Regions from separate parts of the Homo sapiens genome. Here regions 1, 3, 4 and 5 are each linked to region 2. The links come from fine-mapping of genetic effects on gene expression. A gene starts in region 2. Each other region holds a variant in brackets. All regions are shown on one strand. Distances are between the middles of the regions.

Evidence for each region.
Region 1: its variant is fine-mapped to the expression of MSR1 in T cells (TOPMed, PIP 0.97).
Region 3: its variant is fine-mapped to the expression of MSR1 in whole blood (INTERVAL, PIP 0.99).
Region 4: its variant is fine-mapped to the expression of MSR1 in whole blood (TOPMed, PIP above 0.99).
Region 5: its variant is fine-mapped to the expression of MSR1 in whole blood (TOPMed, PIP above 0.99). The same link has a PIP of 0.9 or more in blood mononuclear cells.

The regions. Positions count from the first base shown.
Region 1 is chr8:16,538,234-16,543,344 of GRCh38, forward strand. All of the region lies in intron 6 of LOC101929028 (a long non-coding RNA gene), which reads right to left. Among named protein-coding and RNA genes, the nearest start is that of MSR1, 350 kb to the left of the region's middle. The variant T/C (reference allele first, on the strand shown) is at 3,190.
Region 2 is chr8:16,190,673-16,195,783 of GRCh38, forward strand. It overlaps MSR1 (macrophage scavenger receptor 1), which reads right to left and starts at 1,979. Exons shown (of 10, transcript NM_138715.3): 1 at 1,926-1,979.
Region 3 is chr8:16,157,363-16,162,473 of GRCh38, forward strand. All of the region lies in intron 5 of MSR1 (macrophage scavenger receptor 1), which reads right to left. Among named protein-coding and RNA genes, the nearest start is that of MSR1, 33 kb to the right of the region's middle. The variant C/T (reference allele first, on the strand shown) is at 2,717.
Region 4 is chr8:16,505,233-16,510,343 of GRCh38, forward strand. The region is part of intron 7 of LOC101929028 (a long non-coding RNA gene); the gene reads right to left. Among named protein-coding and RNA genes, the nearest start is that of MSR1, 320 kb to the left of the region's middle. The variant T/C (reference allele first, on the strand shown) is at 2,942.
Region 5 is chr8:16,545,310-16,550,420 of GRCh38, forward strand. All of the region lies in intron 6 of LOC101929028 (a long non-coding RNA gene), which reads right to left. Among named protein-coding and RNA genes, the nearest start is that of MSR1, 360 kb to the left of the region's middle. The variant A/T (reference allele first, on the strand shown) is at 2,395.

The DNA of each region.
Region 1 (5,111 bases), 350 kb after region 2:
CAGAGTACAGATTGTAAAAAACATGAGGCTTTTTCATTAACTTCAAGTACCTACTTTTTAAGCCTCTCACTTGCTATTGTATAGCCTTGGGAAAACTACTTAACATTATGTGGTTATTTCTTTCATTTGTAAAATGAGGATGTAGTATCTAATTTTTAAGGTTACTATATTAATTAGGTAAATGTTAATGTAACTAACCCACAGTTCACCTAAAAATATGATAAACCAAATTGGGTTCAACCATATTGTACACTTTCATAACCCATTGATATTTTTTTCCATGACTGTATCTTTTAAATTTTAAAGGAATTGTCTGCTTTATTCACATTTTTATCTGAAAATCTTTTTTCAACTTTTAAGTTCCGGGTTGTATGTGCAGGATGTGCAAGTTTGTTACATAGGTAAATGTGTGCCATGGTGGTTTGCTGCACTTATCAACCCATCCCCTAGGTATTAAGCCCTGGGTCCATTAGCTATTCTTCCTAATACCCTCCCTCCCCACCCCTAATATGCCCCAGTGTGTGTTGTCTACCCCCGTGTATCCATGTGTTCTCTCGTTTTCCTTCCACTTGTAAGTGAGAACATGTGGTGTTTGGTTTTCTGTTCCTGCATTACTTTGCTGAGGATAATGGCTTCCAACTTCATCCATGTTCCTGCAAAGGACATAATCTCATTCCTTTGTATGGCTGCACAGTATTCCATGGTGTATATGTACCACATTGTTTTTTATCCAGTCTATCACTGATGGGTATTTGGGTTGATTCCTTGTCTTTGCTATTGTGGTTAGTGCTGCAGTGAACATATGCGTGCATGTACCTTTATAATAGAATGATTTATATCCCTCTGGGTATGTATCCAGTAATGAGATTGCTGGCCAAATGGTATTTCTGCTTCTAGATCTTTGAGGAATTGCCACACTGTCTTCCACAATGGTTGAACTAATTTACACTCCCACCAACAGTGTAAAATTGTTCCTTTTTCTCATCCTTGACAGCATCTGTTGTTTTTTAAAGGTTGGAGGAAAATTACAAATTTTTAAATAACTTGCCAACTCCTTATTGTCTTTTTTCGTAGGTTGTTTTGGTGAATTATACAAGGGGAGTCATCGAAATTATTTTTATACCTTCTCCATTTAATCATATTCTTCCAGGCAGAAACTGTTAACAAGATTATGAAATGCAATAGATTTTCAATATCTAAACATGTTAAAATGCTGCAATTAGGTTCCTTTAGTACATGTACGTTCCTTTGTAAAACAGAATTATAAGTAATATGCCATCTGCTTTACCCTATTTCTAATTATAGCATTGCATATGAATTTTAATAGGTATCATAATTTGAATCACTATCATGAGAAAATATAGAGATATAGGTTATTGTATCTGTTTATTTTCACAACAAATCTGTAATAGTAAAGAATATTTTATGAAATACTAAAGTATAAAGAGAAATTGTTTTTTACTGCAATGAAAAAATTGATTAAGTCATTCAAAGGGTGATAAAATTTAATTTCAAAATAGATACTCCAGAAGTTGAACAAAAATGGTTTTGATTATAATAATAGTGCACATAGATATTATACAAAAAATGAAAACCTGTATAAGCGCAGCCGGAATCATCCTCTGATTGTATGTGGCTGTTACCATTCAAAATTAGTTATAAGAAAAATCATAGTCACTTGCTGAGGGTCAATTATTGTGCCAGATACTCTACAAAGCTGTCCAATGTCCATGTTTTTTCTACTTCATTATGCCCCAGGCTTTTTTTTTTTTTTTTTTTTTTTGAGACGGAGTCTAGCTCTTGTTGCCCAGGCTGGAGTCCAGTGGTGCAATCTCAGGTCACTGCAACCTCCACCTCACGGGTTCAAGCGATTCTCCTGCCTCAGCCTCCCGAGTAGGTGGGATTACAGGCATGCGCCACCACACCCGGCTAATTTTTGAATTCTTTTTTTTTCAGTAGAGAATCTCACAATAATGATTTGGGTTTTTTGACATGCCAAAAAGATTAAAAAGTGCAAATCATAAAGGAAGAAGGAACAAAAACATCCATATAAGATGATAACAGGTAGCATTCACCACTTAATAACTTTTTATTTGGTGAGATAATTTAATTCTTTGAGTCTTAGTTTTCTTATTTGTAACATTTAAAAAAATTCGCGTCAAAGTGTTATTGTAAAGCCTAGGTGAAAGCATGCATATAATTCTCTTAACACTAAATTCACAATAAGTAATATATATTATTTTGAAGAACTCTGTATGAATTTTTGTTTAAGAAATGTATTAGTACTTCTATCTAAGGAGATAAAAAATGTAGAAGGCAAATAGATTTATGACATAATTAAAATACTTTGAAAAGAATTATAATTTTTTCTAGAATTAACTAGCAAGAATGGAGATGATAATGTTAAAAATGAAGAGAGTTGGGGAAGTCTTAACCTAAGACATATTAAATTTTATATTAAAAATAATATTTCTCAAAGTTGCTATTTTCTAAAGAAAGAAGAGGCATTTAAATGAAAGACACAGTAACGTATGTAAAACACATCCTAAAGCAATAAGGAAGTAATTCTGCCAAGAAAATTAGCTAACAATTTAAAACAGCTTCAAATGAGATTCTTACCTTATAGACTATATCAGCTAAATTATTTTTATTAATAATGTTAGTATTAATAACAATATTTTTACTTACTATGAGACAATTATTAAGCCATTTATCAGAGTAAGAAACTGAAAAATTTGCAAAGGTTGGTTAAATAACTTACCCGAAGTCAAGAACTAAAAGGAGAGCTAGAATTAAATAAATATCTTAATATAAATAGGCAAATAAATTGATAAAAGGTAAAAAAAATAGTGTGGATAAGAATGTTTTAAGCATTAAGGAAAGAGATTGCTATCAAATGAAAATATTTGTAGATTTAATTCCAGAAGAATTTAAAATTTCTGACAGTGAAAATTTATAACCAAAAGCAGCCATTTCTGAAAGTATGGCAAACAAGCTATTGTGAAAAGTTGTGTACATTACTCCAAGCAATTTTAATTGCACTGCTAAACTCATAAAGCTAGGAAGGAAGAAAGGGAGGAAGGTAGGAAGGGAGGAGGAGAGGCAGGGAAGGAGGGAAGAAGGAAAGCCAAAGACTAATGTGTAGGCATAGGATGGCTCTGCCAACAGCAAAAAGAGTAAACACAATTC[T/C]CTCTGGGAGAAACATTCCAAAATGAGATAGATATTTTAGAGTTTCCATCTTGTAGTAAAAAACGAAGTCAATGTGAAAATATTACCAGACTTTAACAATGAAATTTTCACAAGCCAACGCAAACATAAAGAAGTTAAAAAGAATAATGAGCAGAGTAAGCACATTAGATCTAGAAATGATTATATATTAAAAGGTAAAAACTAATGAAATGCTTAAGGAAATAAAAGATGTTATCAGAAATATTAACAAGAAAAAAATCCTGTAAACCATCACGAGACAATTTTGAAAGAGAATTCTAGAACTTATAAAATTAAAACTAAAATCATTGAAAATAAAACTTAAATCCAGTTAAATAGTAACTTAAATACAGCGAAAAGATGTGAACTGTAAGAAGGTAAATGGATTAATCTACTAGGCAATATATCAATCCAAAATGTATATGCAACCAATACCATAGTTTCAAAATATATAAAGCATGTATTGATAAGATTAAAAGGAGAAATAAGTAAATCTAAAAACATACTGGGAGATTTTAACATGTATAACTCAGTAATATTTGGAAGAACCAACAAAAGAAATTAGTATAGATACAGACGCTTTGATAACAAACCTGACGTGATATGTATAGAACACTAAACCACAAAACTTCAGAATATATATTATTCTTAAAGGCACGAGACAGTTGCTGAAATTAACCACCGTAATAAAGCAAGCCTCAACAAATTTTAATAGATGGAATTCAGATACCATATGTTCTATGACCTCAATGGAAGTAAGTTGAAAATTAGAAACAAATAGATACCTTAGAATATTGTCCAATGTTTAGGAATTAAATTAAATTATGCACTTCTTAGGAATCCATGAGTCAAAGGAAAATAGAAAATATTTTGTACTGAATGATGACAACATACCATATCCAAATCTGTGTGATATAATTAACATTGAATTATTGAAAAATAAAACGGAAGAAGTTTAAAAAAAGCAACAGACTCTAAAAAGAAGGATATGATAAATATAAGAGGAAGATTATGGAAGAAAAGGAAAAAATTAAATAAAAGGTACGCAGTCAAAAAATGATTGAGACCAATAAAAGCGATTAAAAAAAAAAACTTTGACAAGATGGATAAAAAAAAAAGGAGACAGGGAGAAAGTAAAATTTACAAGTGTTAGGAAAAAAGTATTCTGATATTTAAAAGATTTTAATAGGAGAAATATCATTTGAAAATTAAATAATATGCTATATTCCTAAAATAAAAAAAATGCAAGAAGCAATAGATATTTTAATAAAATTTGCATTTGTTGAAACATCTAAGCCCATAAGCAAAATTTTCCATAGAAATAATCTAGGCCCAAATGGCTCACTAGTGTATTCTTCCAAATATTTAAAGAAGAAATAATGTCAATCTTAACGAACTCTTCAGCATACAGAAAGAGTGGGAATAATTCCTGATTGATCTTATAAGCTCGACCTGACTTGTTACATCAACAAAGGAATTGTGAGAAAGTAAAATTATAGGCCAATCCCTCTCATTAACATGGATGCAAACTCTGAAACCAAACACTTATAAATGAATACATATATTGGCCATTTTGTATTTATTCCAGACTTTTATTGCACAAAATACCCAAAATCCAGTGTCATTCCACACATGAAGAGAATAAAGGAGAAAAATTATATGATAATTTCAACTGATACAGAAACACTTTTTTTTTTGAGACGGAGTCTCGCTCTGTCGCCCAGGCTGGAGTTCAGTGGCGCGATCTTACTGCAAGCTCCGCCTGCTGGGTTCACGCCATTCACCTGTCTCAGCCTCCCGAGTAGCTGGGACTACAGGCGCCTGCCACCACGCCCGGCTATTTTTTTTTTTGTATTTTCAGTAGAGACGGAGTTTCACCATGTCAGCCAGAATGGTCTTGATCT
Region 2 (5,111 bases):
TAAGATTTTTCCCTATTTAGTTTTTTTATCATATTCTTTCTTTTTTCTTTCTTTCTTTTTGTTTTTGAGATGGAGTTTCGCTCTTGTTGCCCAGGCTGGAGTGCAATGGCGTGATCTTGGCTCACCACAACCTCCGCCTCCTGGGTTCATGTGATTCTCCTGCCTCAGACTCCGGAGTAACTGGGATTACAAGCATGCACCACCACGCCCGGCTAATTTTGTATTTTCAGTAGAGACAGGGTTTCTCCATGTTGGTCAGGCTGGTCTTGAACTCCCGACCTCAGGTAATCCACCTGCCTTGGCCTCCCAAAGTGCTGGGATTACAGGCGTGAGCCACCGTGCCCGGCCCATCATATTCTTAAGGCCAACTTTATCTTCAACATTTGGAATAAATAATAAGCTTGTGATCCTCCTTATTATATAAAATAATAACTTTGATTTTTGTAACAGCAGTTGAATGTGTATATAAAATGAAAATTAAATTAAGATTATTTGTGAAACTAACAGCTTTATGCTTAAGGAACCCGTCTGTAAGACAGATTTTAGTAAGAAATGGAAATATTTATATTGTGCCTGATGTCACTGATATTCATCCTTGGTAGCAAAGAAGAAAGAGCATCAACTTTTGAATCTGAAATCTAGATTTGAGTATTGACTGTGACATCATTTAGCTGTGTGATCTTAGGCAAATATTTTAACTTATTTGAATTGAACTTTCTTTAGATATGTAAAATATGATCACAATATAAATTTAAAGAATTATTGCGAGAATTAAAAATAATTTTTGTAAATTGCCTGGTACACAGAAAACCATCAATATATGAATCCCTGTTATTTTAAAATATCACTTTTTTTTTAAATATGAGCTTTTCTTATTTTGTTCTCACGGAATCTTCATGAGGTACAAGTAGTATTTTCTCCATTTTACAGGTTAGGGAACTGAAATGTGTAAGTAACTAGTCAAGTTACTCAACTAGGGAGCAGGGGAGCTGGAATTTGAACACAGGCAGTCTACTCCCAGAAGATTAGCTCTTACCCACTGCATAAAACGGCTAATCACTGCATAAAACATCTGTAATCTCAGTTCTATGGTTTTTCTATAAGTATTTTTACCTGGTCAGTGCAAATGCCAACCTCCCATTATATGCTGTGTGAATCTTACTTAGTCTTCAAGATTAATCAGATTTCTAGCATCTCCATGAAGATTTATTTTTGATAGACTTTTTTCACATAGAAGTAATTTTGGCCTCGCCTATATTTTCATAGTAATTATCTATAGCATTTTCATACTACTTAAGGTGCTAGTAATTATCTATAGTACTTTCATACTACTTAAGGTGCTCAAATTACATTATGCCTATTTGGGGATATGTTTTAAATCATAAGATTCCGGAGCACAAAAAGAACTATATCTTATTTTTTGTATCCTTTCCCCACATCTAGTTCAATGAAGTGCATATAGTAGATACCCAGCCAATATTTGCTATATAATCAAGGGAAGATAATAAAAGGCATTAGATTAAAGCCAAAAATGTTCCATGAAAAGTTATGAAAGGAGAATAGGTGAAATATGTCAAATTATACTTTGAATAAAACCAGTATTTTAAACAAAATATGCTTAATTATATGAAAAAACCCCATTGCTGGTTCAAACTACAAAGCATTTAGTGTATTTCATATGTACTTGTGAACATATATGTTTTTCACTCATGGAAAATTTAGCAGAAATCCCTATTTTTTGATTATCGAAAAAAACCAAACCAAATTATTGCTGATACAATAAAGCATTCATCTCATCATACACACACAGACACACAAATATATATCACACACATGCATGCACACACACACACAGAGTACACACATAACAATCAATAGAAACAATTCTGGAAAAAACATTAAAATAAGCCTTTTTTTTTCTTTACCTTTCGTCCTAAAGAAAGCAGCACTGATTTATCCACTTCTCTCTCTTTACAATTGAAACCTAAAATCTTTATCTCATAGTATTTCAGCATCTGGTACATGAAGAAAGGAAATGACACATTCCTGCGTTGAAAATCTTTCTTAATGTGTTTCAATAGCACTCTCATCAATGCACAGGTTTGCAAAATCTAAATTTGTCAGATAACTCACTCTTCACCCCATTTAGGCCGCTTTAAAAAAAAAAGAGAAGTGAAAAGGAAAAGAAACAAGGGTTGTTGAAACAAGCACATAATTTACAGCAGATTGAGCTTTCCTTTTTTTTTGGAGATGGAGTCTCGCTGTCTCACCAGGGTGGAGTGCAGTGGTGTGATCTCCGCTCACTGCAACCTCTGCCTCCCAGGTTCTACAGGCGTGTGCCATCACACCCGGCTAATTTTTTGTATTTTAGTAGAGACAGGGTTTCGCCATGTTGGTCAGGATGGTCTTGATCCCCTGACCTCATGGTCCGCTCGCCTTGGCCTCCCAAAGTGCTGGGATTACAGGCGCGAGCCACCGTGCCCAGCCTGATCTTTCCTTTTTTATAAGTAATCTATGCCTTCTAAAACATACATTAATTCTCATGATCTCCTCTTTCACGTTACTATAATGTTGAGTAAAGACTCCATGTTTGGCTAGGTGTGGTGGCTCATGCCTGTAATCCCAGCACTTTGGGTGGCCGAGGTGGCTGGATCACTTGAGGTCAGGAGCTCTAGAACAGCCTGGCCAACATGGTGAAACTAGTCTCTACTAAAAATACAAAAATTGGCCAGGCATGCGCCTGTAATCCCAGCTACTCGGGAGGCTGAGGCTGAAGAATTGCTTGAACCCAGGAGGCGGAGGTTGCAGTGAGCAGAGATCGCACCACTGCACTCCAGCCTGGGCAACAGAGTGAGACTCCACCTCAAAAAAAAAAAAAAAAAAAAAGACTCCATGTTTAGAGATTCGAGTTTTTTTCTTAGATCCTTTTTCCTGTACCTTTATCCCTAGCCTCAAACACAAAACACGTGAAGAAAGAATATGATGCCTTAGTAAGAACAAGTAATAACCTAAAAGCACTCACTCCTGTTCTCTCTATAATGATAATAGCATTAATTTTTAGAGCACCAGACAAGTTGTTTATTTCCAGTAGTATAGTAGAGGGAAGGAATCTCAGGCATGGATCAGATGAAAGGGATGTTCTTTCCCTTCTGCCATCCATCAGGGTTTTATACAATTCAACTCCGTTATTTACTCACATTCAAGAAGTTCAAGTATGACTCACATGAAAACGTTCAACATTACATTAATGAGCTAAGTTTTACAACTGATATTTCTGGGAGAAGGTGTTTAGCTTATATTCCGTAGTCACTCTTTTGTGCCCAAACAGGAGAAATCATGCTTCCTACCAAAAGATGCCCCAAATTGCTGTGCCCATGGGCACCATCCTTCAGAAGACAATACGTCTGCAAGAAAGTATGCGGGAACAGCGCACGGTCTTTGAGAGATGCAAAGTAACAGTATTATTCAGTTATTCTTAAGGTAACCACTAAAAGGCTAATAGTAGTAGTAGGACAGGCATCAAAGTAAGCTGCATAATTTCTAACCAGGCAGCTTGAAGACTAGAAGTACGATCACAATTTGATCCAGCCTGGACCAGCATAAATGCTATTGGCTATTCCTCATCAAATTCTTACTGACACAGAACTGGAGACTACAAAACTCACACTCTTTCCTTTACAATTATTTGTACATGCTTCTTATTTTAAAATATAGTCCTTTTAGGTTTTTTTGTACAAAATCTGAAGTTTAAAATTTAGATATCCCTGACAATGCTACGTGATTAGAAAAGTCAGACTCTGGGAATAACAAGACACCAATCTCCCAAAATTCTATCCTAATGAGGTTTCTTTCTGTCAGTGTGCTTTATTTTCAGTATGTCTCTGTAATACTGTTTGGTGTATATCCACAGTGCTGACCACTTCCCTATGTGATGATTTCCACACTCTTCAGCCAATCTAATTTTTCATTAAAAAACTTCCCTTTTTATATGTCTAAATAGGTACTATATAATTTTATATAGTTTTATATATAATAATTATAGATTATGTAACATAATATTATCTATTAGGTCTTACTATATGTAAAAACACCTTTAGCAGGGAACCATGTTAAAAATGTTCAGTTCAAGCCAATGATTAATTGAGAACAGAGGTAATATGTAAAGGGTTGGGATTTTGCATTCATTCCTTCATTTGACTTCACAGCAACTTTGTCATATCACTTCCCTAATTGAGAAATTAATGTTTAGAGATGGTAAGTAAATTTCTCGAGATCAGAGTTATGAGTCATCAGAGCTGGTATTTAAACCCAGTCTGATTACAAAATTTGGCAAAATATAGTTTTTTCTTAAGCTGAAGTAGGTATATGTATTATTAGGGGACTATAATATCTCCATCAAAAACAGTATACAGAAAACAAGCCACAAATATGGGCAAATTCCAGATCATGTGGATAGTTACTTTGTTCATAGTTATTGTGATGGATCCCAATTACTTTATTTTTGTTGCTTATGGATATATGTGTCTAGAATGAGGTCCATGTAAGATTATGCCCAGTGACCAAACAGAGATTCATAATCAAATAGGCAAATGGCTTGAGAGAATTGATTCAAATGTCCTAGGACTCACTGTGGTACAGGTATACTGAACTCAAAAGAAGAGTTAACATTTTACACTCATTAAGAGGTATTTTTGTATGTCTAAAGTTACAGCAGGTTGTTAGTCATAATATATAGTTAATACATTATGACTTATTTATTGTATGATATATATATGATAAAGTTTCGAGATAAAATTTTTCATGTTCTTAATTCAAAGCAATAAGTAAATAGTGATATAAATACAGATTTTAATAATGCTGCAACGGACACATATTGCTGTGGGATTATAAAGCATTTACAGAATTATCAAAACATTCTTTAATAAAATTGACATTGAAAAATTGCATATTGGCAGAGCTTTTTCTTTGATAATCATAAGCAGAAAACTGTGAAGGTACCAGTAACATTTTATATAGCCTTATTAAACAGAACTTTCCTATATGAGAATTATTGAAGTCAAATACAGAAACAGACCAAGGACAGTATCAGAATTGAATAGTATCTTCCTTCT
Region 3 (5,111 bases), 33 kb before region 2:
TATTATTTTACAAAATTTGGAGTTAAAGATCCCTCTCTGTATTTTTATATAAAAATACTGATACCTGGTATTCGAATCCTACAATAAGAAAAACAGGTAAAGATTTTTGTTAGAGTTCTAACTAGGCATGTTGAATGTACCTTTTTATTGTCATTCTATTCTTCATGTAACATTAATCTCACATTATGTTTCATTTTTGTACATTGTTATAGATCTTTTACTGTTTCTAACAAAATGTTGGAAGGATCTCAATAAATGTTTTAAGTGTCTTTTAGATTCATTGGGGGAATAAAATAACAAATTATATACCACTTTACTCTTAGTTTCTGATGCAGAACTTTTAAGAACACTATCCACTACCTTGCCACCTTCCAAAACTAGCCTCCTCTCCATTCCCATTGTAGCTCACGTCTTCACCATCACACAGCTGGACTATTGCTAGAGATTTTTAATCTAGTCTGAATGTGTTTTATCTGTTTCACCTCCTAGTTCCCTCAGTGTTGGCTTTCTTCTTCTTTTTGATAAGAATCCGTTTTGCAATGTCTCTATCAAATTAAGGAAATGCAGTAACCTATTCTGTCATATTATGGAAAAAAGAATAAAGACTTAGAGTCTCTTGTAGTCACCTTTTGTTCGTAGTTTCCATTTAGTCTTTTCAAAATTTTGTTCCATACTGACATAATAACTGCCTCGTTGCATCAATAAATGGACAAAATGCTACCTGTCAGCTCCCTTGCTGATACATGTCAAAAAAAATGGGTTAATATTGGCCAAAATATATGATTTATTCTAGTTCAAGAAGCCATAGAATTTACATTATTTTTCATCTTTAATATTTCCAATTACAGTTACAGGAATAATTCATAAATACTATCACAATAATCTGCCATGAAGAATTACCTTTATACAACACATGCACAAAATCTACTATGTAGCTTCCTCCATGATTACTTCTTAAAAAGGAAAAGTAATATTTCTATATAACCACAAAAAAGTACTGATATATAATATTTGATAATCATCAATATCATAGAACAAAATTACACAATTTACTAGAAAAACAAACCCAGGTGTATCATATCATTTAAAATCCTCAGACGATAACATAGCACTAATAATATCTGACTAAGTTTCCAGAGCGATGCTTCTCTAGTTTTTATTCATTATGAGCATTAATCTTCTACTCCGTTTTCAATCTTGTCTCATATTCAGATCATCATAAAAATCTGCCACATCTTCTAGTCTATTGCTGCCTAAACCTGCTTCTTTTTTTTTTCTCTAGTTTTCATGCTCATTGATTTAGATATGTTTAATCTGGAAGACACTTTAAACATTGTTTAACTAAACATATTTATAGAGGGTCAGAGAGTGAGTTGCTCAAGGTCTTAAAGCTAGTTGGGTTAAATCAGAACTAGAAGAATTTCATTTCTTTCCTGATCCTATGCTACCATGTTCTAAATTTAATTGACTTCATTTTCCACATCTGTTCTTCCATTATTCCTCAGCTGAATTTTTCCTTTACATAGTGGTTAGACAAACTCACAATTCAGTTTTTTTCCTTTGGTTAATTTTTTTTTTTTTTTTTTTTTCAGAGATAGGGTCTTGCTACTTTGCCTAGGCTGGTCTTGAACTTCTGGGCTCAAAAGGCCCTCATGTCTCACTCTCCTGAAGTGCTGGAATTATATTGTCTCAGCCTCCCAAAGCGCTGGGATTACAGGCATGAGCCACCACTTCTAGCCTACAGTCCAGCTGTTACAATCTCAGTAATTAATTATACAAAACTCCAAATTCAAATGCCCTCAGTTGCTTTTTCATTTTCTCTACTATAAAAATCAATATTTCTTTTTTGGTGCTTTCATATCCTAGGAAGCCAATATATCTAAAATGTTTCCAAATAAACAAAATGTTAGCTATTCTCACCACAGAGTCATATTATATTTTATTTCTCTTAAATACCTTTCTCTAGAGTTCATCTTTGCTTCTTTAAATCACGTTATCCCCAACTCTCCACCAAACTCTACTTCACCATTTCCACAATGAAATTTTATGTAGTTCTTTAAGGCTCTAATTATTATAACTATTTGAGAAATGTATTAAAAAATCTTTGTCTCTTTTAACTGTATAATTATTTAGTGATTATTAATATAAGGGAAAAGAGAACACAAAGTAATTACACTAACTCTGCAATCAACACATGATAAAGGATAAAGCACTCATTAATTTCTAAAATATGGTTCTTAAGTTATAATTTAATTAATAGATATTTTATGGCTAGGTGCTATAAGAGATATAAAGAACAGTTTCTAATGGAAGTAGCTTGTGTCCAGGAAGAGTGAACACTGTTCTCGAAGAGAATATGAGATACTTTTATACATAACTATCACATTAAGTATTCTCTTGTGAGAGAATACTTAATGTTCCATATTAAGACAGAAATAAGTATCAGCTGGGCCTTACTATTGGTAGAACCAGCAAAGGCTTCATGCAAGAGGTGGCATCTTAGATGGACTTTGAATGATAAACAAGATATCTTCGAATACAAATCAAAGAGAAAATATTTCAAATAAAGGAAAAGACATGAGGCAGGATGCACAAAGTACTGGGTACATTAGAATCACAGTCAAATTAGTTGAAATATTTGATATACAAAAAAGACAAGCGAGGGAATGAAGCATTCAAGACTAGTTAAGAGACACACTGAAAAAGACCTTGAGTG[C/T]TACAGGCAAAACTGTATGTCTAATGACGGGGCAACAGAGAGTCTTTATGCAATCTAAGACTTCCTTTAGGAAGGCTGTATTCTACAAGGGTGCAAAAAGGATTACAGTCTGGGCAGGAAACAATTGCAACTCTGGCAAAGAGTCATAAGAATAATTTATACGAGGATATAAAGAAATGACAAAGGAACAGAGAATACAGAATGTTGAGAACTAATGGTGGTCTTGGGAGATATAAAATAATTAAAATTGATAGCTTGGAAACCAGGAAGAATGACACTGCTATTATAGAGTGTAACTTGCTAAGACAAAAGTCTTAGTTTCACTTATTCACTCAACACATATGTAATTGCTCACCCACTATTTTCCAGGCACTCTAACAGGCATTGGGATTGCAGAGGTAGACAAGGAGGAGAAGACTTAACCTCACAGAGCTCACATTCTGCTGGAGAAGATACAAGCTAAACAAGTAAGCAAATGTAGAGATGACATGATTTCATATAGTGGTAAAAACTATGAGGAAATTAAAGCAAATCATGGTAGAGAGAGATGGGGGAGTTTAGAATAAGAATGGTGGAAAGTGGAGGAGGTAACTTCAAGTGGAGCCAAGAAGGAGTAGAGACGTAGAGAAGAACCTTTCAAGAGAAAGAGAAAATGTCTAGTGTTCATTATGGACAGCATGAAATGAAACAAGCACTTTTTCTATATTAACTTTTACTTGTTCGTGGCACTTCATTCTTCCACATTTCCAAGCTAGGCAGAAGGATGACAGAGGGAAGATTGAGAAAATTAGGGCAGAGAAGTAGACAGGTGACAGACCAAGTAGAAGTTTAGATTTTATCCCAAGACTAATGAGAAGACATTGGAGGATTTAAGCAAGAGAGAGAAAAGACACATCTAGTGTAAAGAGAGAAACCACACACATCCAGTAATTTGTGTGGGTTTTCTTAAATAGCATTTTTTTTTTTTTTTTTTTGCTATTTAGAATGGACTAAGAGCAGAGCCAGGGACACCAACTGAGAAGCGGATGTAATACACCAGACTGGGATATGGTTGCTTGAATTAGAGTAGTAGTAGAGAGTAAGAAGAAGTTTGGTTTGAGATATTGTATGAAATAAGAATTAGTAGGACTTACAAATGGATTACATAGAGAATGAGAGCAAGGAAGTCAAAGACAGCTTCCAAGATCAGGCAGTGAGCAGGTAGTTGGAAAATGACAAAACCAACAAAAAGACTGAAAACGCAACAGATTTGGGGAGGCAGATGCGGGTGGCTAGTTAAGAAGCAAGGATTTGGTTTTGAATTTGTAAAGCTTCGGACATTTATTTGAAATCCAAAGTGGAGGTATCTAACTGTTAGAGAAAAATCTGATTAATTCAAATTTTTCTTTATCATCTGTTTTATTGTGATAAATACTATATATGATATGTGTTCTGTATAAGCAAGCTATAAAGTACAACAATAATGAGAATACCCTTGCAACATCACAATCCAAGAAATCGGTATCTACCTAGATGTTCCCCTATCTCATTCATCTATTTCCTTTTCATAGATAAATATTACCCTGAATTTTGTGTTTATCATTTTCTTAAATTTTAAAACAATGATTATATTACATATTTATGTGTCTGTAAATTTACATAATTTTACTAACTATGAGCATTAGAAGTAAAAATTGTCTATATATAGTTTTCTGGGACTTGTTTTTATTCTTTTTTTCATTGTCATCACTTGATTATTAGGCTTCTTAATTTTCTCAAACTAGTGTATTTGAAATGAAGTCACATGAAGTTCTTAGTTCTATTTTTCTAGTTGCTAATGATATAAAATGAGACAAAATATTAAAATCATGAAATAGAGCTTAACAGACATGGAAGCTGGAATGAGAACATCCAATATGAATTTCATGTAAGTTACAGAGGAAAGGAGAGAAAGAATCGTGAAGAAGCAATAGTCAAAGTGAATGAAGCTGGTTATATTCCCAAACTGATAGACATAAATCCACTAATATAAGAAGTACAGCAAATGTTAGATGGATAAATTATCAATACAAAACCACAGATAAGTAAAACTGCAGATATGAAAGACAAAGAGAATGACAAACAGATTGGTGGCAGTCATTTTAAGAGCCACAAGAAAAGCTTGAAGCCAGGGGACCAATTTTTTCAGCACACTGATAGAAGGAATCAAAATAACTGTCAACCTAATAAGTGTGTATATAGTAAAACAATTTCAAAGATCAAGTCAAAATAGAGAAAATGAAATCAGAAGGTTTCTTGATCAATTTACTTTCACTAAATGAACTTCCAAAAGATATACTTCAGGCAGAAGGAAAATAATCCCAGAAGAAATGCCCGAGGTGCTTTTAGAACGGAGAACAATTGGTAAATTCATGCG
Region 4 (5,111 bases), 310 kb after region 2:
ACATCACCTGGGTTCAGCACATCTACAGACCCCTGCGCTCACTGATTGGAAGCAGTGTTACGTCTTCTTGTCTACCAGAGTCAATTGCCTCTGATTTATGGTGACTCCTCTTCTCACCTGCTGGTTTCTCTGATTTATAGTGACTCCTCTTCTCATCTGCTGGTTCCTGGTCACAAAAAGTCCAAAGAGCCCTGGCAGTTGCCATAACTTGTGGCCCAGTGGAATTCTTTATTTGACTCTGGCAAGAGTGTGCCACACTGGGAACCACGACCTTCAGTTCAATGGAAATCGGAGTTGTGGGAATGCATAACACAAACCATCTCAGTCTTAGAGACTGATTGTATATCACTTTTCATTCCTTGGTGTCCTTTTTTATTGAGGACAATGAACCATATAAATCTTTAATTTAAAGCATGTAATGCACCCGGAAGGATAACACCCATTCTTTCAGAGTGTTGTCTCTAAACTGGCATTTTAACTGTGCTTTTAGAAGGCTGTGTCAGAGCTCTGTGGGGCCAGCTGCTTCAGGATAATGCATTATGTATTACAACCATTGCATTTCATGATCATGGACTACTTGAAGTCTTAGGCCGTGCAGTAAAGAAGAGAAAGCAATAATAGGCATAAAAATTAAAAAGAAAGATGTAAAAGTGTCTGTATAGAATGAATATGCTATCTTCTTAGTAGAATACGTTAAATAATCTGTTAAAGAAACCAATTGAAACTATTAAGTTAGTTTAGCAGAGCAACAGGGCATAACAGCAATATACAAAAATCGATTGTAATTCTATATAGTGATAATAAACAAATGGCAATTTAAATTAAAATTACAACATAATCACATGAAAAAACATGAAATACTTAAAATATGCAACAAAATATGTGCAATGATATCAGCCAGCACAGTATTGACATAAGGCTATACATATAGAACAACGGAACAGGATGGAAGCAGTGATATGCAAAAAATTAACTTGAAAGGGATCATAGGCCTGTTCAGAAAACCTAAAACTATAAATCTTCCATAAGAAAACACAGGAGAAGAGAATTGTCCTCAGCTTAGGCAAAGATTTATTAGGCAAAAAAAGCATTAAGTTAAAAAGTTAAAAAGCATTAATCATAAAAGAAAAAAATTATAAATTACACTCATTCAAAATTTAAAGCTCCTGCTTTTGAAAGATTCTAAACATGAAAAAGCAAAAGATATATCAGAGAAAATATATGTAATTATCTGTTAAAAAGCTCTAATCCAGAATAAAGACTTCTTTCTAACTCATTAACATGACAAATAATTTAAGAAAGAACTGGAGACAGAAAAAAGCAGAGATAACCAAGAAAGATATATAAATGGCAAAAAAAAAAAAAAAATCACACAAAACCCTGATCAACGTCATTAGTTGAAATACAAGTTGAAACCTCAGTGAGATACCACTACACATGCTACAGAATGATTAAAATTAAAAAGACTGGTCAAGGCAAACATTGATAAGGATGACTTCTGGTGGGAATGCAAAATGGCACAGTCACTTTGGAAACTATTTTGTTAATTCCTTGGATAGTTAAACATATACTTGTCAAATGATTTACCAATACCACTTTTAGACATTTACCCAAGAAAAATGAACACACATATGCTCCCTAATGCATGTGAATGTTCACAGAACTAGAAAGTCATGTGGGCATACCACAACTGGTCTATCACACATGAATAAGCAAAAAAAAATGACACATCCATACAATGTAATACTGCTTAGCAATGAAAAGGAAGGGAATATTGATACGCACAATATCAATAACTTTTTGTGAAAGAAGCCTGACACAAGAGACATTGCATTGTATAATTCCACTTATATAAAATTCTAGAAAAAGTAAAACTATAGTGAAGAAAGTTCATCAATTATTGCAAGAGATGGGAGTAGGACATTGACTAATGGGATGTGCAGAAACTGAGGGGTGATGGTAATTTCCCACATCTTTGATTCTGAGGATATTTAACTGACGATATATATGTCACAAATCATCTAAACATATACATAAAATCGGTGAATATTTCTATGTATGTCAAACCACATGAATGGTGATTTAAAACAAAAGCACATTATCAACATTGTCATAATGAACCTCCAGAGGGCTTCAGTTTAGTTAGAACTAATGAAAGCATACAAAATACCTTCCAAAATTACTGCCTAAGGACAGGTGACCAGAGCACTTGTCCAGCAGCTTTCAGCCCTTGTGTGGTTTGTTACTTAATCTTGTCCATCATAGCTACATAGGTTCTTGGGACAAGGCCCTGGAGCAGAAAGAAGAAAGACATCTGCTGTCCAGGGAGGCTAGATTCTTGTCTTCATGCTTGTCCTAATTAAAAAATATTATTTTCTTTCTTCCTGTTCAGAAAGTTGGCCCTTACCTAGATGAAGTCAGAGTCTTGGTTTATAGCCAAAATAAAAGAGGCTTAAAAATCAGGAGTTTTGCCACAATGAGATATCATCTCACACCAGTTAGAATGGCGATTAGTAAAGTCAGGAAACAATAGATGCTGACGAGGCTGTGAAGAAATAGGAACGCTTTTACCCTGTTGATGGGAATGTAAATTAGCTCAACCACTGTGGAAGACCGTATGGCAATTCCTCAAGGATCTAGAACCAGAAGTACCACTTTACCCAGCAATCCCATTACTGGGCATATACCCAAAGGAATATAAATCATTCTACTATAAAGACACATGCACACATATGTTTATTGCAGCAATATTTACAATAGCAAAGACATGGAACCAACCCAAATGCCCATCAATGATAGACTGGATAAAGAAAATATGGTACATATACACCATTCAATACTATGCAACCATAAAAGGGAATGAGATAATGTCCTCTGCTGGGATATGCACGAAACAGGAAACCATCATCCTCACAAACTAAGGGAGGAACAGAAAACTAAA[T/C]ACCTCATGTTCTCACTCATAAGTGGGAGCTTAACAATGAGAAAACATGGACACAGAGAGAGGAACAACACACACCAGGGTCTGTTGAGGGGTATGGGGCGAGGGGAGGGAACTCAGAGGATGAGTCAATAGGTGCAGCAAACCACCATGGCACACATATACCTATGTAACTAACCTGCATGTTCCTCACATGTATCCCGTTTTCTGTTGTTCTTGTTACTTTTTTTTTTAGAAGAAATAAAAAAAAGAATCAGAAATCTTGGTTGTAACATCAAATTTGCCACTAACTGGCTATATGTGTTGCAAGAAGTCAGTTTAATTTCTGTGTCAAATTTTTCTCATTTGTAAATACAGGGGTTGAGTAGTTGTTTTCAACATTTTTTAAAAAACTAATATTGGTGTGTTGCTCATCCAACCGAATTTACTCAACAATAATTTATTTGACCAACACTATTGGCGTGTGTGTGTGTGTGTGTGTGTTTGTGTGTGTATATATATACACACACATATATATATACACATACATACATATATATTCACATATATACACACATCTGCAAATATATGCTAATGAGAACTACAGATACGTGACAATTTTCATATTTCAGTGATAGAACTACAGAAAAAAGCAAATAAACTAATCATTTAGTCTATACAGTTTTATCATGGCTAAATATTCATTTTCCATTAGCGATTTTGAAATATTTAAAAACCAGCTACTGAGCTCTTTCCATTAGTAATTATTGCCTTTCAGTAACATCTTTCCACTTATAGAAACAAATATATATGTAATTCCTAAAGACCCTTCCTCACATTTCTGATTATCTGCTTCTATGTCTCTTGATTGCTCTCCAAAGATAGATAAAAACAAAGTAAACTATGGCTCTTATAAAATGTACCATTTGTAATACAACAGTATTAGTAAATTCATGTAAAGAGGAAAACCATGAACCAATTCAATTGCACTTAATACAAAATATCAACTATATTTCCAGTTTAGACACCCTCTGAAGAATAGATGAGAACTGTTTTGACTTGGATCGTTTGCTGTTACCTATAGGCTTTTGAGCATAGCATTATTTTCCCTCCACTGTGACAAATTTCACAAGAGAAATGGAATGTGGATGGGATATTGTGTCATCTTCCATGCGTTTGTTAAGTATAGATTTCCCATATTCTGCAACACCTTTGTGTTTTCAATTTCTTTATTTTCATAAATAAAAAAATGCTGCAGCTTATAATAATAAATACAGACAACTAAAAACTTGAGAACAAATCAGGATTATGCAGTAAGCTACAAAACCATTAACTGGGATTTTGGAGTGTGTGAATGATTTTTTAAAAAACTAAAACGTAAAGCCAGATTGTAGTAGGTAACTTCCATTACGACCCTCAGTGATCCCCACCCACTTCCTAGTATTCCCCTCTTTGTCACACCTCCTCCCTTTGAGTGTGGGCTAGACCTAGTGACTTGCGTCTAAGGAGCAGGATTCAGCGTAAATGATTGGATGGCACTTCTGAGGTTAGACTTTTGCTTCTCTCTTAGATGATCTCTCTTCTTCTCTTAATTGCTTGCTTGGAGGGAAGCCAGTTACCATATTTTCACCTGCCCTACGGAGGGAAGCCAGTTACCATATTTTCACCTGCCCTATGGAAAGGCCACACAGCAGGAAATGAACTCAGAGAGATCTCCAGCTAATAACCAGCAAAATCCTGGTGTTTGACAGTAAGCATGTGAGTGAGCCTGGAAATTGGTCCTCTGAGGCCTGACAATGACCAGGTGAATAACCTTCAAAGCAGATCCTTCTTCTCCCAGGTGAGCCTTGAAAGGACTGTGGCCCTGGCCACCACCTTGATTTCGGCCTTGTGAGAGACACTGAACCACAAACACACAACTAAGCCACACACAGATCCCTGACCCAAAGAAATCATGAAACAATAACTGTTTATTATTTTAAGTTGCTAAGTTCAGGGATTATTTGTTCCACAGAAATAGGCAATGAATACACCTTGCTTCTCACAGCAAAAAAAAATCACTCACACAAGATACATAGTTCCTGATGATAGCATCAGATACTGAAGTCTATTTCTGTATTAAAGAGACTGAAGCTTCAGCATTTTTATTCAGCCATTTGGGGCCAAGCAAAGAGAAAATGGCATTTAAGGCAGA
Region 5 (5,111 bases), 350 kb after region 2:
ATTGTGAAGATGGGTTCTCTGTCTGGCCACCTCCATGTTGCCGGTTCCTTTACCGTACACGTGGTTGACAAAGAAAAGGGAAAAGGGAGCCTCAATGTTGAACATGCCTGGCCCCCAGGTAGCCTTATCCTATTGGCACAGCTGCCAGCATTCACCCGTGCAAGCATCCAGCTTGCCTTATCTACGTCTGCAGTTCGATTTTACAGGCTGCTCTTTGTTAGAGAAGGAATGATATGGGGGCTGCGTTTTTGTAAAAAGGGAAGCCTTACTGAGGACTCTCTTACCCTCACTAACTGCCTAAATAATTTCTTTTTAAGCTCCTTATCAACACTGCTGTACTCTTAAAAATGGTAAAGATGGTAAATCCTGTTTTTTATCACAATAAAAAAATTAAGAAAAAAGATTGTACTAAAGGCTCTAGACAGTGTAATAAGGCCAGAAAAATAAAAGATTTAATAATTGGAAAGAAAAAAAGACTATCATTATTTGCAGATGCATGATTGTATAATATAAATATACCAAAGGTCGAGAAACTATGGTAAGAATATTTAATCAATTCATACTTTTATTATTAGATATAGTAATTTTTAGCAAAAAGCATCTATTTGCCACCTAGAAATAATCCCACATAAAGTTAGACAAGAACTTTATACCAACAAATGATAAAATTTTGTATATTAAAGCAGACTATAATAAATGGAGAGATACTCTATGTGTAAAGACAGGACAATTAGTTCAACCCAAACTGGCTTATGAATTTAATACAATTCCAATGGAAACTACATTTCTTTAGTTAACTGATATTATGATTTGAAATTTTATTTGAAAATCTCGTGGGCAGTGACAGCTAAAGCACTCACCAAGAAATATTATCAAGTTTTATTACAAAGCTAGAGTAATTTGTATAGAACCCCAAAACCGAACCAACCTATACAGAAACTTGTTACATATAAATACTGTGTATTAGAGAGAAAGACAGGACTTAGTAATTAGTGCTGAGACAATGTGTTATCCATAAGGGGCAAACAATAGTGATAGAACACTTATCTCACAGCATGCTTTAGAACAGGAGAGAAAGAAAGAAATGTGTAAAACTTAACAATTGTTTATGGCCTAATATACAGAATGATGTCCTAAACAAAATACCAAAAAGTAATTATATTAAGAACTCTTGGGGGTAGGGAGGAAATGGGGATATGTAGTTCCAAGGCTGCTAAGTTGCAATTAGTAGAATGAATAAGTTTAGAAATTTAATGTACAGCACGAGGATAATAGCTAATAATATTGTTTTGTATACTGGAAGTGTGCTGAGAGAGTAGATTTTAGGTGACCTCACACACACACACAAACACACACACACACACACACACATGCACTCCAAGGGATAACTGTAAGATGACAGATATGTTAATTTGCCTGAATATAGGAACTATTTCATTATGTATATTAAAAAATTATCTTGTATACTTAAATATAAACTATAAAATATTTCTTAAAATCTCTTAAAATTTCATTATCACTAAATTTAATAAGAAATTTGTTCATTAAGGGGAACCTTTTAAAAACATAGAAAACAAACCACAAATTGGGAAAAGATACTTGAAAATGATAAATCAACAGAAAATTAATAACATGAATTTATAAAGTTCTCCTTCAAGTTGACAAACAGAAGACCACCCAATAGAAAGATAGGGCAAGAGATATGAATAGGCAGTTCCAAAGAAGAAACCCAAGTGGTCAGTAAGCACATGGTAATATATTCAATCCATCACGAATTAGAAAAGTACAAGTTAAAACCAATCAAAATGAGATATAATTTTACAGTGACCATCATAGCAAAAATGTAAAAACAAAGTTGGACAAAAACAAATATTGGTGAGAATGGGAAGCCCAATAGGAATTCTTATATACAGTTTGTGGTCATGTAAATTTATATGGCAATTGCTGTATGCAGTTGGGTGAATTTGTATTTGTCAGTTTAGCTAGACCAAGTTATGTTTCCCAGCACTGCTGTCTTGCTTAGTTCTAAGTTAATGCAAGCCACAAGAGATATTCTGTGCAAGAGCTGGCAGGTAAAAGTGAAACAGCAGCTATGTACCTATGCTTGAAACAAGAATTGAGAACACCACGTACGAATTCAGCTTACACGTATTGTCAGTTGCTGCTGGCTCACTGGGGCTGTATGGGGCACCATTTGGCCCACAGCACTTAAACATCCTGTGGCTTCTGCAGGATCCTAGTTGGGACAGCATATCTGCCCCAGGGATATTTCATTCTTTCTGGTGGCATCTTTTTTTTTTCTAGGAGGAAGCACCTGGTATTACTAAGAATTATGCTTCCTGTCAATGATACCGACCTGACTTCAGCAGAAAGAAAGCGCACTGACATTATATA[A/T]CCATAAGTTGTAAAAGAGAGGGGAATTTAATTCTGTGATGAAGGACATCATGCTCTCCTAGAAGGTATTCTTATGGTCAAAGTTGAAGTCTCAGAGGCAGAGGGAGAAATATGAAGGTTTCAATTTGCCATCATGGATTCCAGCTTATCCATCCTCTGTTCTACTTAGTATCATCTTGCCTTCCTGACTACCCGCTCTACTGATGTTAGGCTCCAACCCCAAGCACAAAACAGCTTTATACAGACTTTAACCAGCTGCTACAAATATATAAGGTCAAATTCTTATCATAAGTTTCTTATCACATATATAAGTAGGATTCTGTTTCTTCGATTTAATCTCAACTGTTTCAACTGATTATGACATAGACATAATAAGACAAATTGCAGCAAGTAATGGCTTGACATTTTATTAACCATGAAAAAATACCAACTTTTCATTTATTTAAAGACAAAAACAACACATAAAATTCACCTCTCTTAAAACTTATGGTCTGTGTGCTTTCTTTCTCCTGAACTCAGGTCAGTATCACTGACAGGAAGTATAACTCTTAGTAATACCAGGTGCTTCCTCCCAGAAAAAAGTAGAGGCCACCAAAAATGCTGAAATATCCCTGGGGCAGATTTAGGTGTCACCTGACACACATAGAGCATTTGTGCAGAGACTAAAAGATTGATCTGAGAAACCACTTCCTGGGATGAAATGAAAGCCAGGCAGAGAATCCCATACCCAAATATAATCTAAAGGGGTTAAACTGAGAAAAAGAACACCGGTGAGACAAAGGGATTTAAACTGGAGGAACAAGGAAAGAAAAAGTGAGTATATATTTGAAGGTGAGAGGTAGAGCCTAGAGGAATCCATTGAGGCAAAGGAAGCCAGCTCTAGCTAGTTGTTTTTCTAATGGTCCCTGGTGACTAAAAGGCAAGTCACAGCCATGATTTTACTATTACCATTACATTTTTTTCATAAAGCATCTTTAAAGACACTGCAGAAATCTGGGGGGAAACTTCAACAACATGTTGATCCAAAGAACGAACTATAAACATATTACCTGTCAACTGCAACACTAAAATATAGATCAGTTAAACTAGTCATAATGACATGTAAACCTCATATATCTGGACTTCAGTATTTTGATCAATATCTTGAATGCCCTAATAGTCTGGCTATAGATTGATATCTGGCAATAAATGATTAACTTGTAATGTATGAAAATACTGTTTAGCTTTCATAAAATGAGTAGTAGTAATTTGAATGTATGATTTCAATGGATTTTAAAATATTTCTAAAGAAAGAAAAATAATGACTCCAACTCTTTAGCAAAAATATCATGAGACATATAACCAAAACAAAAATGTCTTGACTCTGAATAAAAATTTTTTTTTCAGTTTTCAGCTATTTCGTTCAAATTTGTGTCTCCATATTCACTGTGCTTTCTGTTTTGGTACAAAAATATTTTCTTAAAATTGGATGTAATAATGATCAACATTTTGCATTGTATTTTAAATTTAATGTAGAGTTACTTGACTTAATTCTGTGGCAACTTTTTGTGAAGTGGGGTATCTTTATTTATGTTCCTAATTTTAGCAAAGTTTTGTCATTACAAGCAACCTCAGTAAGTATTATATACAAAAGTATGTAAACAGTTTCAATAATATGCATTCTAAAACATATCATTTCTAATGATAAAATTTTATATTCTCCGATTTATAATTTCACAGTCACTACTAAAAAAACTTTTGAATATTAGAAAAAACTACATTGCTCATTTTGGTGAATGAACTTAGCCAGAAACTCAATTTGCAAATAATGAAATCTAAAATAAGTGTAAATTTTATTAAATATCATGGGGAAAGAATTTGAGGTAACTGGGAAGTAAATGTCTACTAATCTTATTTTTGGGTCTAAACAATGGTAACCTAGAGGTTTGCATTCTCAAAGGCATTTATGTCCAATAGATTTACATAATCCCAAAGGTTCTCTAAATAAAAATTTGTGGGTTCTGGCTCTACTATAACATTAATCAAGATCAAATTAAGGATTTATGGCTTATAATAAAGTAGTTCCAGTGTCTATCACCTATTTTTCTAAATAGTTCATCAACTGGCTTTTACACTAGATTAAATTCCTTCCCTGTAGAAGAAAACAGCTCAAGTCTTAACTCCTACAATTTATATGACAAATAAAAATCAATACAAGTGTTCTTGTTAATGGTCTTATAAGAAAAAGCCAGAATATCTGGAACAGGAGACAAAAGAACTCCAGGGTCAAGTCTACTCATCTTTGGATTCCAGCATCTTAGACTTCCCAAGAATAATGGCTCTCATATTACCCTCTTACCTTCTGAACTGCAATCTTTCTTGAATTATGAGCCTAACTGTGCATGGCAGAAGTGTTTCTTTAACAATCCTAACTTTATCACACTGAAACACTACGAGACAGTGCAATAAACCCATCTTCATAGCTTTAAATATTACTATAATCTAAGAAGTACAAATGTTAGGGAATTTCATAGATATTGGAAATGAATCATCTGTTTAAACCCTATCACTTTTTATTTGAGGAAATTAAAGATCTTCAAAACATAAACACTGAGCCCAAAGTCATAGGCCTAAAGAGAAAATTTAAACTAGAACATAGACACGTGATTTGTAGCTAATATTATCATCCAGTTGGACGTATGAGCATAGGAATTTAGAGCAGAAAGACAGTCTAATTC